Linked DNA regions of Homo sapiens. The protein of the gene in region 4 purifies or fractionates together with the protein of the main gene of each other region. This does not show direct contact. Each region holds a gene or a part of one and is shown on either strand. Other genes may lie near its edges.

Region 1 (4,521 bases), on a different chromosome or scaffold from region 4:
ATTTGAGGAAATTTCAACTATTTTTTCCGAAAGTATTTCTTTGCATACTTTTTTCAGCTTCAGTAAACTCTTTTCTTGTCTTCTTCTGGGATTCTGATTACCTGAATGTTAGACTTTTCATTATAGTCTCACAGGTCCTTGAGGCTCTGTTCATTTTTGTTTCATTCTATTTTTTCTTGTTGTTCAGATTAGGTAATTTCTAAATTGTTCTATCTTCAAGTTCACTGATTCTTTCCTCTGACTACTTCATTTTGCTGTTGAGTCCATCCACTGAGTTTTAAACTTCGATTACTGGAATTTTTCTGTTCTAAAATTTCCACTTGCTTCTTCTTTGTATCTTCTACTTCTTTGCTTAGAGTTTGTATTTTCATTTGTTTCAAGTGTGTTCGTAATTGCTCAATGAAGCTTTTTTTTTATGATGGCTGCCTTAAATTCCTTGTAAGATAATTCCAATTTCTGTGTATCTCAGTGTTAGCATCTATTGATTGTCTCTTTTCACTCAAGAGAGATTTTCCTAATTCTTAATATAAGAATTTTTTTTTCTTTTTTTTTTTTTTGAGACAGAGTCTTGCTCCGTTGCCCAGGCTGGAATGCAGTGGCCCCATCTTGGCTCGCTCAAGCTATTCTCCTGCCTCAGCCTCCTGAATAGCTGTGATTACAGGCACATGCCACCACAGCCAGTTAATTTTTGTATTTTTAGTAGTGACGGGGTTTCACCATGTTGCCCGGGCTGATCTCAAACTGACTTCAAATATCTGCCTGCCTTGGCCTCCCAAAGGGCTGAGATTACAGGCATGAGCCACTGCGCTCGGCCTAAGAAGTGATTTTTAACTGTATCCTATTACATTATGGGACCCTGGATCTTATTTAAATCTGCCATGTTAGCAGGCCTCCTGTGACACCATGTGTCTTGGTCCATTTAGGCTGTTATCTAACAAAATACCGTAATCTGGGTAGCTTATAAACAACAAAAAAGTTACTTCTCATAGTTCCGGAGGCTGGCAAGTCCAAGATCAAGGAACTGGCAGATTCAGTGGCTGGTGAGGGCTTATTTCCTGGTTCACTGATGGCACTTTCTTGCTGTGTCCTCCTCACATGGTGAAAGGGGTGAAACAGCTCCCTTGTGCCTGTTTTATAATGGCACTAATCACCTTCTAAAAGGCCCTACCTACCTCCTAATACAATCACCTTGGGGATTTGGGTTTCAACATATAAATTTGGTGGGGGACCACAAAAACATTCAAACTATGCCAACGCTATGCTAATGGGGAAAGAAGGGTGCTGCCTCAGTACTTTCAGACGGAAATGGAAGTCCAAGGTGCCCACTTGCCCTCCACTGACATCTGGGGGTCAGCAGAAGGTGTACTTCCTTATTGCTGGGTGAAGGCGAAAGTTCAGGCTCTCTACAGGTCCCTGCTGACACATGCTGGCTGGGAGAAACAGAGGTGCGTCACCACTGCTCCCTACATGGCCTGCACCGACAGCATGGGGTAGGGCAGTAGAGAAAGGCTTATTACATCTGGGTGGTGGTTAGAGTCTCAACCTCCCTGTTGACCTTCTCTGACACCATCCTGATAGAGAGGGGACAGGATGTCTCATTACCACTGAGTGAGAGTTGAAGTCCAAGTTTCCCAAGTGGCCTTCACAGATGTCTCTGGGAGATGGTGAAAGTTCTGGTTCCCCACTAGACTTCTCTGACATAGCTCTGGCAGGAAGCAAGGCATGCCTAGTGACAGCTAGGTGAGGGTAGGAATCTAGGCTTCCCACTGAACTTTACTGATGGAGGTGGGAGTGGAGCTGTGGTTTTGCTTCTGTAGCATTTCGCTAGAATAAGGCAGTTAATGTTTGAAAGTTTTCTGTCTTGTTAGGCTTCCTCTCTTCTGGTCCTTTTGCTAGAGGGAGGAGGCTTTTTGTTTGAGTCCATTGTTATTCCCAGGTTTCTGACTTCTCCAGCACCCAGTCAAGGATATATGGGGCAAAAAGAAAACCCAAGAAACTCGCTGTCAAATTTTCCCTCTGGTCGCAAGGTCCCTAGGCAGTCTGCTTCTCTCTACCTCTCAAATTCCTCTTATGTTTGTTATATACATATACTGTCTAAGGTTTTTCAATGTACTTTGGGGAGGAACGGGGAGAAATGTCTCTACTCCCTCTTGTCTGGAACCATGTAGGGTACTTAACATGATCTCTTAAGCATTTATCATGAATGCGTCTGTTTCCACAATAGATTAAGAAAACTTTATTAACCTCCATATTTTAGCCTTTAATTAAGCAAAAGTATACACTTTATAATATGCTTGCTGTTCTGTTTTACTCTGTTCACATTTCTGACTGGAAACTTGAGGTTTTGCTGGTAAGAGTTTCATCATTCATGAAAAGATGACAAAATGTACTGTAGAAGGTACTGCTTCTTGTCACCACACTGAGCTCTGAATTTGTATTACCTTTTTCTATACCAATTATTCTGACTCTTTCCCATTTGACATGGTTAGAGAGAAGTGATTCTAATTTATGAAGAAACTAAGTTAAATCACTTGCCTAAGCTGAAAGAGCCAGTTATTTTCAGACCTGACAGCAGCAATTTAGTTTTATAACTCAGGATCCTTTCATTGTAATAATGTTCCTCCTTAAAGTCTGATACTTAAAACTACTTCTAATACCAACACAGTTTCAAATGTAAAAGTTGAACAAAGTTTAGAACTAAATAAAAAATCAATTAGCTATATTATTTTAAAATGTTGTGTATGTGAGCCAAAACAGTACCTTTGCTTTCTAATTTTAAAAGAGATACATGTTCAGATGGGCACAGTGGCTCACACCTATAATCCCAGCACTTTGGGAGGCCAAGGCAGGTGGATCCCTTGAGGTCAGGAGTTCAAGACCAGCCTGGGCAATATGGCAAAACCCTGTCTCTACTAAAAATACAAATATTAGCCGGGTGTGGTGGCATGCACCTGTATTCCCAGCTACTTGGGAGGCTGAGGCAGGAGAATTGCTTAAACTCAGGAGGTGGAGGTTGTAGTGAGCCAAGATCGCGCCACTGCACTCCAGCCTGGGAGACAGAGTGAGACTCCATCTCAAAGAAAAAAAAAAAAAAAAAGAGACACATGTTCATTATCAGAAAAAATCAAAAGATCTAAAGAACAAAAAGAATATGCAGAACATCAATCGTGTAGCTGACTGTTGATACTTTACTGTGTATTTTTCCAGAACCTTTACTCATTTTCTCTATGTTTCGCTTTTTCAAAAAAATATGGGGGAACTAATGGTTATATAATATTTGATTGCATAGATATGCCATCATTTATTTAAGTATACCCTATTGCTATTGGCTCAAGTCATTTCCAGTTTTTTATTTCTTTTTATCTTTTCCGCCCAGCTTTTTCTTATTACAATACAACTAAAATGAACATGGCAGATTATTTACTTAGGACAAACTTATAGGGGTAGAAATGTTGGTGAAAAGGCAAATACATTTTTAGGCTTTTGATACCTACTGTGAAACTACACTAAAGAAAGATTATAGGAGTGTATAGGTTACCAGCAGTGTAGGAGTGGTCACTGGCACACCTGCAGAAACACTAAACATTTCATATACATATATAAACTTAGTCCTATCTACTTGCTCTTGCTGCATTCCACCTTCCTATTCTGCCCCCACCCCTGACATCCCACCCAAATTCTACCCTCACTTGTGATCTAGGTGGTCCAGTTCTAGCTTCTTACTTCTGTAAACACTTCTCTGCCTAAAAATAACTTTTCTTCTTTTAGATATATCAGTATTGCTAATTAGCAGCTATCATTTGTCTGCTTGTTCTTGTTGTCTGTGATCTTTGTTTCCCAAGCTAAAAGGCAAACTGTGGCTATGACAATGAATTACACATATTGGCATTTTCTGTAGTGCCCATTCTATTACAGTGTCTCAGTAGACAGGCAATGTGTATTTCTTGGTAGACTTTTATGTTTCTTAATTCAGACTCAGTCAGTTATGGAAGCTTACTGGATCTCCTTTGATATGGAATAAATGAGCACAAATCCTTGGGCTATGCTGCTGCCTTAGATATGGAGAAAGTATTTTATTATACTTGGGAAATATTTAAGTTACTACTACTTTAGAATACTAACTATAAGCCATTTTAAAACTGTACGCAATACATAAAATCATATTTTTGCACATGAAAAAATGTGATTAAATGACAGCAGCAGACATTAGGAGACAGATACTGGTTTCTTTATTTCACATGTGACTTTCAGCCAGTCAACAGGGATTCACATCCCATATTAGTTAAATGTGACTATGAAAATTTTATAAAGTACTACAAAAAAGCTGTTATATACCTATTGATTTCTTTTTTAAAAGTGGCAGTACACAGTAAGACATTTTAAAAGAGCTATCTTATATTTTAAAATTTAAGTCATCTCTATAAATAACAATTGACCTAGGCATTTATGCCCCAAAATAAAATCCATTCCATTTTTTAACTTAAAATAAGCGAATAAAAGTTAAGATGGTCAAACTAGGCT
Region 2 (4,521 bases), on a different chromosome or scaffold from region 4:
ATTTTGAATAGATAATACGTGCACATAGCAAAAGAAGTAATTTCTCACTCATATACTTCATCATTTAGCCATAGAATTCCTCTCCCCAGAGGCAACCACTGTTTCAGCTTTTTCCATATTCTTCTAGAGATCTGCTGAATTATTTTTAATAACCAAAACATGACAAATCTTAGTGGCTGTTCATGTTCTGGCCTAAAGTACTATTGATTCTAATTTCCCGTTTTATCTTGCTACCTTACAACTGATTTTCTTTTGTTTACACCAGAGAGAATAATATGACAGTTCGTGGGAGATTAGTTTTAAAATAAGCTAGTTCTGGTTTTCCTATGCTCATGGGGACAAAAAGTTTGTCTGATGGTTTTATTTTAGTTTTCTGGCTGTTTGAGATTACATGATTTAAGAATTATTTTAGAGAAAAATCACTGTAATATTTATGTCAATATTCTTTCACTCCAGCTTCAATACCAAAGGCTTTCACTCAAAAAGAACTTCTCTCTCCATTCTTTCAAGGTGATATGAACAGCCAGTCAAATAAATTACCTGATGGAGAATCTAGCCTTCAAATACTGCTCCTTCACGTCAAGAGATTGAAAATACCCTTCCACTTGTGTTTGGGTTTTCCTTAAAAGAAGCTAAGTTTTCGCTTTTTTTTTTTGAGACGGAGTCTCAGAAAAAGTCCAGTCTCCACAGGCTGGAGTGCAGTGATGCAATCTCGGCTCACTGCAAGCTCCGCCTCCCGGATTCACGCCATTTTCCTGCCTCAGTCTCCCGAGTAGCTGGGACTACAGGCGCCCACCACTATGCCCGGCTAATTTTTTTTTTTTTTTGGTATTTTTAGTAGAGACTGGGTTTCTCCGTGTTGGCCAGGATGGTCTCGATCTCCTAACCTCATGATCCGCCCGCCTCAGCCTCCCAAAGTGCTGGGATTACAGGCGTGAGCCACCACGCCCAGCCAAATTTTTGCATTGTAATTTACTTGTCAAGTAATTTACTTTTCTGTTGTTAGGTTAGTATTTCTTTCTTACTCTACTTAGAACAGGGAATGCCTATGTACTACTCATCTTTAATTCTCTTTAAGACCTTGTATAGTATCTCATATTTAGGGGCAGCTACCATACAAAGACTAAAAACATGCCCACTTACTATGTGACTTGGGGCAATTTACTTAACCTTGGTTTCCTCATCTATAAAATTGACATAATAATAATAAAACCATAAGACTGTTGTAAGGAGTACATGAGATAAGGCAAGGAAAAATCTTAGATAAAGGGTACACAGAAAACACTCAATAATGTCTACTATTGTTAGTAAATGTGTTGAAATTTAATACTAATTCTTTTTTTTCTCTCTTTTTTGAGACAAGTCTCTGTCACCCAGGGTAGAGTGCAGTGGCATGATCACAGCCCACTACAGCCTCAAACTCCTTGGCCCAAGCAATCCTCCCACTTCAGCCTCCCAAGTAGCTGGGAGCAGTGGCTGTAGTGGCTACAGGTAGGTGCCACCATATCTGGCTAATTAAAAAACCTTTTTTTAGAGACAGGGTCTTGTTACATTACCCAGGCTGGTCTGGAACTCCTGGCCTCAAGTGGTCCTCTCCTGCCTCAGTGTCCCAAGTAGCTGAATACTACTTTTTTAAAAGCAATGTATCTTGCAAATTTAGGAACATATCTAGGACTGAAAGTTAGTAGAGTTGGGGGAAAAAAATGTTTGAGAGTCTTACCCAGGGTTTGAAGCCCATCTCTGTACCGTTTCTTCATCATCACCATCACACAAATCAGCGAAAGTGGCTTCTAAATCCTCTAATTGATGAATTCGAGTATCAACAATATCTACCAAATCTTCCTTTAAATACATTGAAAAGCTGAGATTATATAGTTATTCTTTCAAAAAACAAGCAACATCCCATTACAAAAAAAACTTGGCTCTATTAGTTAAAACATAATTTTCAAGTACTAACCATGGGCTTCGCCAATACACACACACACACACACACACACACACACACACACACACACACTTTGAGCAGTCTTTGAGATCACTGTGGTAATTTGCAAGATATTATTAGTTATATGATAAATGAATAAAACCCCAAAGAAACAAATGGAGGATACCTCTGTTAGGTTGGTGCCAGGTTTCTTAAATTGGTACAGCTCTTGTAAGATTTTGTACTCTTCCTGGAAAACAAAACAAAAAATCCACATACCAGAAAAAAAAAAGTTAAAATTTTTTAATGATATGCTTTAAGGAAGAGACAACCTTCCTTGTGATACAAGAACATCTTAGATAATTATTTAAAGGTATGTATGGGAGAATCAGGCAAAATGTATACTTTAGATTTTTATTGTAATAATTTTATTGTAAATATTGTAAAATTTTGTTTTATTGTAAATATCACTTCTTCAAGGCAACTCTATCCAGCTGGGCATGGTACTACTATGTAAAAATTACCTAAGGAAGCATACTTGGTGGCTAATGGGTCACGAGATGAAAATATTTTAAATAATATTCTGCTATATAAATGCCATGTCCTAGGATCTAAACAGACTTAGCTGTTTACAGGAAATATACATATCTTTAATAACAACAACAAAGAACTCCCTATGTTCACTTTGCAGCCATTTCTCTAACAACAGAAGAGATCTCTGAAGTACAAAGGCAATACTGGAGGTAGAATGTCAAAGACATAGAACCTCGGTCAGGAGGCACCACACAAGGGGAGAAAGAGGCTTGCTATACAAACTTTGTAGGATAATGTTTCCCCTTGTTTAGCACAGCTACATGGATCCATTATATAGGTGGGTACACCTGGCCCCAGTAATCCTATTTAGGAGTATTCTCAGGAAAAGGTTATACCCAAGGGCTAAAATTCATTAAGCACAATGTTGTGGCATATCTTCAGTGCTTTATTCATTATAACAATCCTGAGTTGGGTATGATTATTATTCTGATTTGATACTTGAAGAAACTATGGGTCGGAAAGGTTAAGTAATTTTCCTAAGATCATATAGCTAATAAGCAGTAGAGTTAACAACAGAACTTAACTCCCCTAACTTTTGAACATGCTTCTTTTTTATGAGATGGGGTCTCGCTGTCACCCAGGCTGGAGTGCAGGGGTGCGATCACGACTCACTGCAGCCTTGACCTCCCAGGCTCAAGTGATCCTCCCATCTCAGCCTCCTGAGTAGCTGGACCACAGGCACGTGCCACTATGCCTGGCTAAATTAAAAAAAAAATTTTTTTTTAATAGAGATGGGGTCTTGCTACGTTGCCTACGCTGTTCTCAAACTCCTTGGCTCAAGTGGTCCTCCTGCTTTGGCCTCCCAAAGTGCTGGGATTATACGCATGAGCCACCATGCCCAGCCTGAACATGCTCTTAAGAAAAAAAAAAAGATGAACATCTGTCTTTCCTAATGATATTTAAAAAATTGCTACTAAATAATAAAGTTTAATATATGCTTTTTAAAAAGTCCATTGTACCAAAGGGTATTTAGGCTATACAAATCCTTGTGTTCCCAGGTTTCCTAATAGCACTCTAAAAGGAATAACTGCCACTGAATTCCTTATGTAACCTTCTAGAAACTTTCATTACAAATATTTATTACAAATATTTAGGTGAGTAATCAGGCACATCACTGTTTAAGGAATAATCTGTTACACAGGATTTATATATAGAATATCGCTGGAAAGATACACAAGAAACTGATCACAGTATTTGTTTCTGAAGCAAAGAACTGAGGGAATGGGGATAAGAGAGTGCTGTTTTTCAATGTACACTTGTCCCTTGGTATCCGTGGGGGATTGGTTCTGGGACCTCCTGTGGATACCAAAATCTGTGGATGCTCAAGTCCCTGACATAAAATAGTGTAGTATTTGCATATAACATATGCATACCCTCTCATATACTTTAAGTCATCTCTAAATTACTTGTGGTATCTAATACAGTGTAAATCCTATGTAAATAGTTGTTATACTGTATTGTTTTTTATTTGTATTATTTTTTACTCTTGTATTGTTATTTCTAGTTGTTTTTTATTTTTTCTGAATATTTCCTATCTGTGGCTGGTTAAATCCAGGAATACAGAACCCACGGATACAGAGGGCTGACTGTATATACCTGTACTGTATGACTTAATTTTTATCCATCACCCATGTATACATTACCCCAATTAATAAATGCAAAATAATGAATACTATCTAGAGCAGGAGTTGGCAATCCACAGCCTATAGCCTGTTTGTGTATGGCCCTCAAGTTAAGAATGGTATATACAACTTTAAAAGGTTTAGAAAACAACAGAAAAGGGTATTAGTAGAGAATGTGAACCCCAAAGCCTAAAATAATTGCTAGCTGGCTGTTTAAAGAGTTTGCTGGTTCCTCATCTAGAGAAAAGCCATACAATTCTCAAGATCTATGTGTTAAAAACACAATTATTTACCTGAGTGAACATTTCTTTGAAGGGATTCTTGACTGAAAAAAAATCCAAGTCAATATCTAAAACAAATGCCTTCCCTTTCTTCAAAATT
Region 3 (4,970 bases), on a different chromosome or scaffold from region 4:
GGTATTCTATCCAAAAAATGCAGGAGGTTAATTCAGTCTGTCTAGAGCAAGCCACTCTGCCTGAATCAGTCAGTCATCTTCACCAGGCGCAAGGAATTGTGTTTGTCTTTGACAAACTTCATGATTAATAGATTGAAATTTCATGTCCACTGGTCCTAAGCCTTCCTCCCCAAGGTCTCACATATACAGAAATTATCCACCAGGATGACCCTCCGAAACACATAGCAGATCCTGTTACCTTTTGCCCAACACTACCATGGTTGACATATAAACCCTTTGCAATAATGTATTTGCTTCCTTTGCACAAGTTGTTCCCATTTTTAGAGTGCCCTCTGCACTTCTTTGTATAGAGTACGTAAGCTGTAGTTAAATTATCACCTCCCCTTGAGCCCTCAGTGAAATCTCCCTGCCTCCTTTTCTGCTTCATAACCTGGCAAGAGTGGCCACACCACACCCATCGAGTCCTCAGCTACTGCAGCACAGTAACAGCCTGTCCACGTCAGCCTCCTCCATTGGTCTGTGAGCTGCTCGATGGCTGGAATGTAGTCTTGTCCTTTCTCCCCCTCAGTGCCCAGACTAGGGCCTGGTCCATGGTAGATGCTCAGTAAACATTTGTTGATTGGGGCAGGGCGCGGTGGCTCACGCCTGTAATCCCAACACTTTGGGAGGCCGAGGCGAGTGGATCATGAGGTCAGGAGATCAAGACCATCCTGGCTAACACGGTGAAACCCCATCTCTACTAAAAAAATACAAAAAATTAGCCGGGTGTGGTGGCGGGCACCCGTAGTCCCAGCTACTCGGGAGGCTGGGGCAGGAGAATGGTGTGAACCCGGGAGGTGGAGCTTGCAGTGAGCCAAGATTGTGCCACTGCACTCCAGCCTGGGAGACAGCGTGAGACTCCGTCTCCAAAAAAAAAAAAAATTGTTGATTGGCCGGCGCAGTGGCTCACACCTGTAATCCCAGCACTTTGGGAGGCTGAGGTGGGTGGCTCACCTGAGGTCAAGAGTTTGAGACCCGCCTGACCAACATGGTGAAACTTCGTCTCTACTAAAAATACAAAAATTACCGAGGCGTGGTGGCGGGCACCTGTAATCCCAGCTACTCAGGAGGCTGAGGCAGGACAATCGCTTGAACCTAGGAGGTGGAGGTTGCAGTGAGCCAAGACCACGCCATTGCACTCCATCCTGGGCAACAAGAGCAAAAACTCCGTCTCAAATTTAAAAAAACACACACACACATTTGCTGATTAAATGACACATCCATTTCCTAACTGCGCTGGAGAACCTGAGCTCAAATGTGTAGGAGTGGGTAGAAAAGAGACATGAGTGAAATATTAAAATCTCCACAAAGGCATGTATGGAGGTTTATCCTGGAGTATTTAGCATCCTGAAACAAGGGGCTCCTGTGTAAGGAGAAAGGAAGTTTGAGCAAATCATAAAGGTCCCTTTTGCCTGACAAAGATTAGACAACATCGGCTGGGCGTGGTGGCTCATGCCTGTAATCCCAGCACTTTGGGAGGCCGAGGCAGGCGGATCACAAGGTCAGGAGTTTGAGACCAGCCTGACCAACATGGCGAAACCCTGTCTCTACTAAAAATACAAAAATTAGCTGGGCGTGGTGGTGCGTGCCTGTAATCCCAGCTACTCGGGAGGCTGAGGCAGGAGAATTGCTTGAACCCAGGAGGCAGAGGTTGCAGTGAGCTGAGATGGCGCCACTGCACTCCAGCCTGGGCGACAGAGTGAGACTGTCTCAAAAAAACAAACAAACAAACAAAAACAAAAAAAAAAGATTAGACAACCTCCATTGACCCAATTCTTAACGCTTTTTTTTTTTTTTTTTTTTTTTTGTGAGGCAGGGTCTCTTCAGTTAATAGGGTTGCTTAAAAAAAAAAAAAAAAAGAGAGAGACAGGGTCTCAATCTGTTTCCCAGGCCAGAGTGCTGTGGTACAATCAGGGCTCACTGCAGCCTCGACCTCCTGGGCTCAAGTGATCCTCCCACCTCAGCCCCCCACCCCAAGAAGCTGGGACTACAGGTGCACCATGTAGTCCCACCATGAACACTCCTGAGTTCATGACACATGTAAGTGGTCCATGCAGGGCCTTTTCTCCTTTGTGTTTATTTATGTATTCCCTTTTGTCCCTATTCTTCCCCTCTCTCCCCACCACACCTGGCTAATTTTTTTGTTGTTTGTTTTTGAGACAGAGTCTTACTCTGTCGCCCAGGCTGGAGTACAGTGGCACGATCTTGGCTCATTGCAACCTTTGCTTCCCAGTTTCAAGCGATTCTCCTGCCTCAGCCTCCCAAGTAGCTGGAATTACAGACACCTGCCACCACACCCGGCTAAATTTTGTATTTTTAGTAGAGACGGGGTTTCACCATGTTGGCCAGGCTGGTCTTGAACTCCTGGCCTCAAGTGATCCTCCCGCCTTGGCCTCCCAAAGTGCTGGGGTTACAAGCGTGAGCCACTGCGCCCAGCCTAATTTTTTGGAGCGACAGGGTTTCACCATGTTGGCCAGGTTGGTCTTGAAGTGCTGAGCTCAAGCCGTCTGCCAGTCTCAGCCTCCCAAAGTGCTGGAATTACGGGCGTGAACCACCGTGCCCAGCCAATTCTTATGCTTTTGCAGCCGCGACCTCCATCCACTCTCTACCCTACATGTCACTCCTCTGCTTAAAACCAAAAGATTTCCACTGTACTTAGAAAAAACTCCACATTCCTCTCTCTGACCTACAGACTCTATGTGACCAAACCCCAATTATCCGACCTCATCTCCTACCACTCTTTCCCTTTCTTACCATACTTTAGCCACACTAGCTTGCTTTCTGTTCCTTGACTATACTCTCAGTTGATTTCTGCCCTAGGGCCTTCACACTGGCTGTTCCCGCTGCCTGGACCACTCTCTTCCCGTATCTTCCTAAGCCTGCCTCCTAATTTGGGTCTCAACGCAAATGTCCCGTCCTCAGAGATGCTCTGCTAGACCACAGTATCTAATACTGACCCCTCCGCCCCACCCTCACACCAGTTACCGTGTCATATCGCCCTCCTCCATTTTTTTTTTTTTTTTACTATACAGTCCTACTTGAAGTTTCTAATCTTTCTTTTCTCATTAACCAAAACTGGAGGGAGGAAAAAGCCCATCATTTTCCCTGGACAGCAGCGCCTACTGGGAGTTTCACCCGCATTAACATGCAAACGACAGGCAAACTCCTAGTCATCCTTCCAAAGACCCTGCTCCATAGCCCTGCCGAGCCCGGTGCGCACCTGCTCACTTCCGACCCAGCGCGGTCGCACGAGGACTGGACGTTTGAGTCCGAGCAACTCCCCCCGGCTGAGGCGGCTCTTCGGGGGCTGGGCCGGGACCTATGAGTCTGGGACTCCAGCTCCCGGCCCAGGGCCGACAACTGCGAAGAGAACAAGCCCAAGGGCAGATTGTTCGGGGCTTAGTCGTGGGTAGCAGGGGTTCTGGAGAAGGCTGGGGCCCGGGAGGCCGGCCGAGCTTTCCCCGCCGCGCGCCTCAGCTCCGCCGGCCGCTGTGCCCGCCCTCGGCCCGCACCTGCCGGCTCCCAAGCCCGCCCGCTCTCACCTCGCCCCGCAGCCCCGGCCCCGGCTTCCGGCGCCACTGTCATCGGAACCGGAAGCCGCGGCGGGCGATCGGCGGCCCGGGCCCGCCCATTGGCGGTTTTGCGGAGGGGTGGCCGTCCCACGAGCCCGCGGCTTTGCGCCTCACCGCCGAGGCTCCCCGCCGCGCATGCCGAGTGGAGTCGCCCGCGGGAACCGGGCGGCGGCCAGAAAAGCCGCGCCTGTAGTCCTCTGGGGGTCGCGCCTGGTCGTTTCCAGGTTCCGAGTCCCTCCGGCCCGGCCCCGGGCCTCCCAGTCGGCGGAAGCCCCTGGCCGCGACCGCTCCTCGCCGGCGGGCGGGTTCCCCACCCGGCAGAGGCGTCGGCCTCGCACTCAACCCAGCACCCGACTCCCGGGTCAGAAGCCCCAAGCCCCAAGTGGTTACGCTTACAGCGCTGCCCGCCCTGCTCAGTGAGGGCGGCGCGGGGGCCGTGAGGGGCAGTGGCTGGGCTAGGTGCGCACCGGCCTCGGCAGGGCTGTGGAGCAGGGTCTTTGGAAGGATGACTAGGAGTTTGCCTGTCGTTTGCATGTTAATGCGGGTGAAACTCCCAGTAGGCGCTGCTGTCCAGGGAAAATGATGGGCTTTTTCCTCTCTCCAGTTTTGGTTAATGAGAAAAGAAAGATTAGAAACTTCAAGTAGGACTGTGAACAGGCTTAGGGATCCTGGACAGAGCCTAGAAATCTCAGGAGAACTGAGAGCTCTTGAAATATGAAGTGATGCTTAAAAAAAAAAAGAAAACTCCAGGCCGGGCGCGGCGGCTCACGCCTGTAATCCCAGCACTTTGGGAGGCCGAGGCGGGCGGATCAGGAGGTCAGGAGATCGAGACCATCCTGGCTAACACGGTGAAACCCCGTCTCTACTAAAAATACAAAAAATTGGCCGGGCGAGGTGGGGGGCGCCTGTAGTCCCAGCCACTCGGGAGGCTGAGGCAGGAGAATGTCGTGAACCCGGGAGGCGGAGCTCGGAGTGAGCCGAGACGGCGCCACTGCACTCCAGCCTGGGCGACAGAGCGAGACTCCGTCTCAAAAAAAAAGAATAGAAAACTCCGGGCCGGGCGGCTCACGCCTGTAATCCCAGCACTTTGGGAGGCTGAGGCGGGCGGAACATAAGGTCAGGAGTTCGAGACCAGCCTGTCCAATATGGTGAAACCCCGTCTGTACTAAAAATACAAAAATTAGCCGGGAATGGTGGCAGGCGCCTGTAGTCCCATGATCCTAGCTACTCGGGAGACTGAGGCAGGAGAATCGTTTGAACCCGAGAGGCGGAGGTTGCAGTGAGCCGAGATCGCGCCATTGCACTCCAGCCTAGGCGACAGAGCGAGACTCCGTCTCAAAAAAAAAAAAAAGAAAAGAA
Region 4 (5,005 bases):
TTTAAGGATTTAAAACATGTTGGATACAAAGGTAGTTCAGAGATGTAATAATGGTCCCTCCAAGAACAAGGGAGCAAAAGCCCTATCTTTTATTGAAAATGATGGAGGTGGAGGACAATATAAAAAAGAACCTTCTGAACACTTACTTAGCTTAAAGACATGAAAGACCCAGTGAGTTTTTATTGAATAGTCTCTCTTGTGTTAAAAGTACATATTCAGGACTATACTATGTTGTATTTGGAAATATTCTGATGTGTTTAATACAAATTCGTAGTGTATTCAGAGCATTGTATGTGTCTCACCAATGGTACACATTTGGATTAAGCAGTAATAAGGCCTATAAAAGAAGAAATGAAACAATAGTTTTCAACAATAAATGCAGGAAGAAAAACTGCTGATGGACCCAACTGAGAAAATGTCCTTTTACACTATCCCTTGGTGGTCAGTCTCCCTGAATCTGGTGTGCTTATAATTGCTGGGAAGGCAGTGTAAACCTGTGGCCATTCCTATGCATGTCTGGGAGGACCACAGCCCTGGTGTGGAGCACTGACAGGTTTGACTTTCCACCAGAATTGCTTGCTCAGCTTAATCCCATAATATTCCTTTCCCTTAGATTTGTTTTCTGTCTCGGTAACTTTTTCTCTCTGCATATAAAATTTCATGACTAAAATAACTTTAAAGTACAGAGATTGTATTTTGTTGAAGGAATGCATTGGGGGGGCTTTGGGCAGACTTAGCAAAATGTTTGTATAGCAAAAATGTTTTCTTGCTAAAAACTGATTTGCAAACTTGAACGTCTAGATGTGTGTAGGAAGATTTTAAAATTTAGGCAAATTGGTCTCTAAAGAGACCAATTTTGCTTCCTTTGTCTTGGTTCCAATAAGGATTTAGTACCAAAAAGTTCAGAAGGCTGGCTTCCCAGAAGAATTGTACATACTCCTCTGAACCCCCAAAAGCAAGGGAAAAATACACTCTAAGCTTATTATTTATCTCAGGTGTAAAAACTAGCTACCTTATATTTAAATAAAGCAGCCATAATTTATTTATTTATTTTTGTTGGGGGGGCATCAGGAACCAATATCAGGGGTGAGACAAATGTATTCCGAATTTCTCAGTGAAAGAACAAAAGCCACCCAACATCAATGCTCCTCTTCAAGTCTACCAGCTCTGTTTTTCCCCAGGAACTATTGATGACTGAGGAGACTTGAAAAGAGACCTAAAGTTCCACTAAGAAGAGATGGGCAAACAATGGTTTCATTGAACAGGCCAAAGATGAGAATGTGGGGAATCTGCTGTCTTCATCTGTGAATGTTTCCTACCTGCCGCACCCTGGGACTCAGGCATAGTCACTTCCAGACATGGTTGCCTCTCCATGTGGAGTAGGTCAAAGTCTCCGTCCTCCCTGGCCAGGTGGAAGCTCCAGAGGGACATGTTTCAGCTTAGTACAAGGTGGCTGACACTACTCCTCTGCAGGAAGAGGCTGGCTGGAGGTGAGGGCGCCCCACTCAGCCTGTACCCATCAAGAAGTATTCAGAAAGGATGTCTCTGGCATCCACAAGACTACTGGGCGAACCACACTGCAAAAATGAAAACTAGCGTACACAATTTAAATTGTCTTAAACAAGCAAATAATCCAGCCATTGGTGACTCTGGAATCTAGAGTGCAGCCCTGGGGAACTCGTACCCTTGCTAACAAGGATGAACATTGCATGCTCTGATCTCCTTCTTGTCTTTGCAGCTGGTAAACTGGGAGCTTTTGAATCTCTTCTTTACAGTCATGTAACGTTCCTGAATTCCACCTCCGCACAGTTTGGTGCATTCTGACCAGGCCGTCCATGGGCGCATCCTACAACCTGAAAGCATGAGAATGCCTTGTTAGGCCCGCAGAAACGGGACGGAACAGGGATGCTGAACTCTAGTAGAACTGTGAAATGTGCTTGTCTGGGCTCCTCCTCTGCTCAAGTATGTAATGATTGGTTAGAGTCGTTATTAGGGACAGTTAGGTCGTATGTGACTGACTGCAAAAAAATGGCCACAAATGCTTCACGGTTCTTCTCATCAAAAGGCAGACTCTGTTTCTCCACCTCTTGAATCTGGGCTTGACTACATGATTTGCCATGGCCAATGGGACATGAGCAAAAACAGGCCTAAAAGCTGCTAGGACCCTTCTACTACCATGTAAGCAAGCCTGGCTAGACCACTGGAGAGACCATGTGCAGAGAAGCCCCAGCCATCTCATGAGGCCCCAGATACGCAGGTGAGGCTGGTCTGGTCCAATTGTGCCACCAGCTAGTAGTAGCCACATGAATGAGTCCAAACTAGACCCAAGAAGAACCATCCAGTGGACCCAGTTCACATCACTGATCCACAGAATCTTGCTAAGTGATTGTTTAAAAAGACTGTTTTGGGATGGCTTATGCAGCAGCCATATAAGGAACACTAAACCACTTTCTCTTATGCCTTACTCCCCAAGTACTTGGCTCCCAAATGCTAAGTATAGAGAAGTACAATTTTTGTTCTTCCTACTCAGCATAAACATGCTGCTCTCCAAGAAAACTTCCCTGACCCCAGAGATTAATTAGGTTAGATCTTTTGATTACTGCTTCCATAGCACTCTAGATTCCTCTTTTATAGAACCCACCACATTTATGGTTACACATGAGATATTTGTTAACCACACTACAGCTAAGAGTCATGGAGGAATGTACCGTACAACTATGTACCTGCCACATAGTAGGCTTTAATGAATGTTTGTTGACTGGCTGACTACCATGTAGAACAGACAGCACTTTGATATGCAAACAGCTCCCTAATCATAAGGATCCTGAACCATCAAGGAGATCCTCATGCTTCAAAAAGAATAGGCCTTTAAAAATCAGAAAACTTGATGTACATGTTAATCTTCACTTTTTTACATGGGCACCTTCAGCACTGAAGTCCCTGGCAGGCATTTTCTTTTTCTTCTGAAGTCCTGGAACTCTGAAGTTAAGCTGGAGTTTGGGGATGTATAATCTTTCTCTTGGGTTACAAATAAAACCTATCTGGCCTCTGTGTCTGTTTGCCATCCCCAAATCAGTCAACACAGGTCTGATACAGTCACCCTCTTGCTTAAAACCACCTACAGAATCAGGTCCCAAAATCCTTGGTGGGCCACTGGCCTTGTGTGGTCTGGTCCCTGCCTTCCCAGCCTGGTTTCCTGCCTGCCTTGTCCTCTGTGCTTCATCTGCATCCCATTTATCACTTGGACCTATCACTTGGACCTATCATGGTCTTTGGCATCTCTGTGCCTTTGTAATGACTATTCTTGCTGCCTGGAATGTACTTTTCTTTTTTTTTTTTTTTAATTTGAGACGGAGTTTCACTCTTGTTGCCCAGACTGGAGTGCAATGGTGTGCTCTTGGCTCACTGCAACCTCTGCCTCCCCAGTTCAAGTGATTCTCCTGCTTCAGCCTCCTGAGTAGCTGGGATTACAGGTGTGCGCCACCATGCCCGGCTAATTTTTGTACTTTTAGTAGAGATGGGGTTTCACCATATTGGCCAGGCTGGTCTCAAACTCCTGACCTCAAGTGATTGGCCTGCCTTGGCCTACCAAGGTGCTGGGATTACAGGCATGAGCCACCGTGCCCGGCCTGGAATGTACTTTTCTAAGTGGCAAACTCCTCTAGATTTTTCAAGACCCACTCTAGTTTTCCCTGCTCTGACATCTCCCTGAACTCCAGTCAATGTAAGATGATGCTCATTCCTCAGCTCCCTGAGCACTTGGTGCATTGTTCTATTAGTTATTTGTCAGCTTGGATCAATATTATTTGGGGAAATAAAACTCAAGGCTGACATGACACTGCTGATAAACTTCTGGTTAGCCTTGCAAAAAAAAATCATAAAGTCTCAGGCCACGGCTGCCTTGTCTGAGCCACACCCTTAAAATGGAAGATGATGTGTTCTGGGAGGTTCTCAGGAACATTCCCTAAATGATGAACAAGACAAGACTCCTTTGACACATCTGTATCATTTTCCCTCTTTGCAAGGAGTGAATGGTGTTGCTAAGTCATAACTGACTTTGAGCAAAGTTGGACACATTATTGGTTTTATATGTGTGTAAAGAAGGAACTGTAATTCCTAAAGATTCTTTGCTTGAAAATTTATTTTTGGCAGGTAATTAGGTTATCTAAATGTTCTTTGATAAATGACCCCCACCGCCAATCTCCTTTATAAATTATGCTTGCTCAATATTTGGGAACAAACTTGGATCTAAAGAATCAAAATGTGGCCTGAAGACTCCAGAAGATGCAGACTCTCCCCGACTTTTTTTTTTTTTTTTTTTTTAAACAGGTCCAAGACTTAGCCCAGTGCAGAACCCTGCCTGTCCTGGAGACCACCCAGGCTGACACTTGGGAGCCATACCTGGGAACTGCTCCCCTTCAGACTCTTCCTTCAGCTGCTCACTCCGCCGGCTCTCTCGGGCCTCCCTCCAGCGTAGCTTTTGGATGGATGGATTTCGAAGGCATTTTCGGATGCGGCACTTTTTTCGCTGCACAGTCTCTGGGCAGGGTGCACCTCCAAACTGAGGCTCCATTTGGATCATCCGGGTTCGAATCACGTGGCCTTTCCCACATGACTTGTTACATTCCGACCACTGGGACCACTCGGTGAGCTCACAGTCAATGGCTGGCAAGACACAGATGGGCATGAGTGTATCACATGTCTGAAACAAGATATGGTCACGCTCTCCTTTGAACATCTCAACAAGCCTATGAGGGATGCAAAGCAGGTGCTGTGTCATGCTATTTTACAGAAGAAGAAACTGAGGCTCCAAAGAGGCAGGCTGACTTCAGCCCGTGTGGTTGGTAAGCAGCAGAGGCAGGATTGGTGCCAGGTCATCACCCATTCTATGCTCCCTCTATGACTCAAGAAGGCTTTGGAGGACTTTCAGGATGTGTTCAGAGCCTCTTGCCCTGCTCTGTGAACTAGAATATTGTCAGATCAGCCTCAAGTACAGAATAGCTTC

Evidence for each region. The genes of interacting proteins can lie anywhere in the genome.
Region 1: the proteins of SPON1 (region 4) and DPY19L3 purify together in Homo sapiens (affinity purification with mass spectrometry; one large-scale study listed by BioGRID and IntAct). This does not show direct contact.
Region 2: the proteins of SPON1 (region 4) and C5orf22 purify together in Homo sapiens (affinity purification with mass spectrometry; one large-scale study listed by BioGRID and IntAct). This does not show direct contact.
Region 3: the proteins of SPON1 (region 4) and RMND5B purify together in Homo sapiens (affinity purification with mass spectrometry; one large-scale study listed by BioGRID and IntAct). This does not show direct contact.

What each region holds. Positions count from the first base shown.
Region 1 is NC_000019.10:32,440,071-32,444,591, reverse strand, and holds part of DPY19L3 (protein C-mannosyl-transferase DPY19L3), read right to left. Parts: intron 1-4,521. UniProt on the Homo sapiens protein: C-mannosyltransferase that mediates C-mannosylation of tryptophan residues on target proteins.
Region 2 is NC_000005.10:31,538,602-31,543,122, reverse strand, and holds part of C5orf22 (UPF0489 protein C5orf22), read right to left. Parts: coding exon 4,434-4,521; intron 2,175-4,433; coding exon 2,112-2,174; intron 1,843-2,111; coding exon 1,721-1,842; intron 1-1,720.
Region 3 is NC_000005.10:178,129,666-178,134,635, reverse strand, and holds the start of RMND5B (E3 ubiquitin-protein transferase RMND5B), read right to left. Parts: upstream 3,623-4,970; 5' UTR 3,582-3,622; exon of another isoform or gene 3,400-3,581; 5' UTR 3,260-3,399; intron 1-3,259. UniProt on the Homo sapiens protein: Core component of the CTLH E3 ubiquitin-protein ligase complex that selectively accepts ubiquitin from UBE2H and mediates ubiquitination and subsequent proteasomal degradation of the transcription factor HBP1.
Region 4 is NC_000011.10:14,262,372-14,267,376, reverse strand, and holds part of SPON1 (spondin-1 precursor), read right to left. Parts: intron 4,666-5,005; coding exon 4,402-4,665; intron 1,854-4,401; coding exon 1,690-1,853; 3' UTR 1-1,689. UniProt on the Homo sapiens protein: Cell adhesion protein that promotes the attachment of spinal cord and sensory neuron cells and the outgrowth of neurites in vitro. May contribute to the growth and guidance of axons in both the spinal cord and the PNS.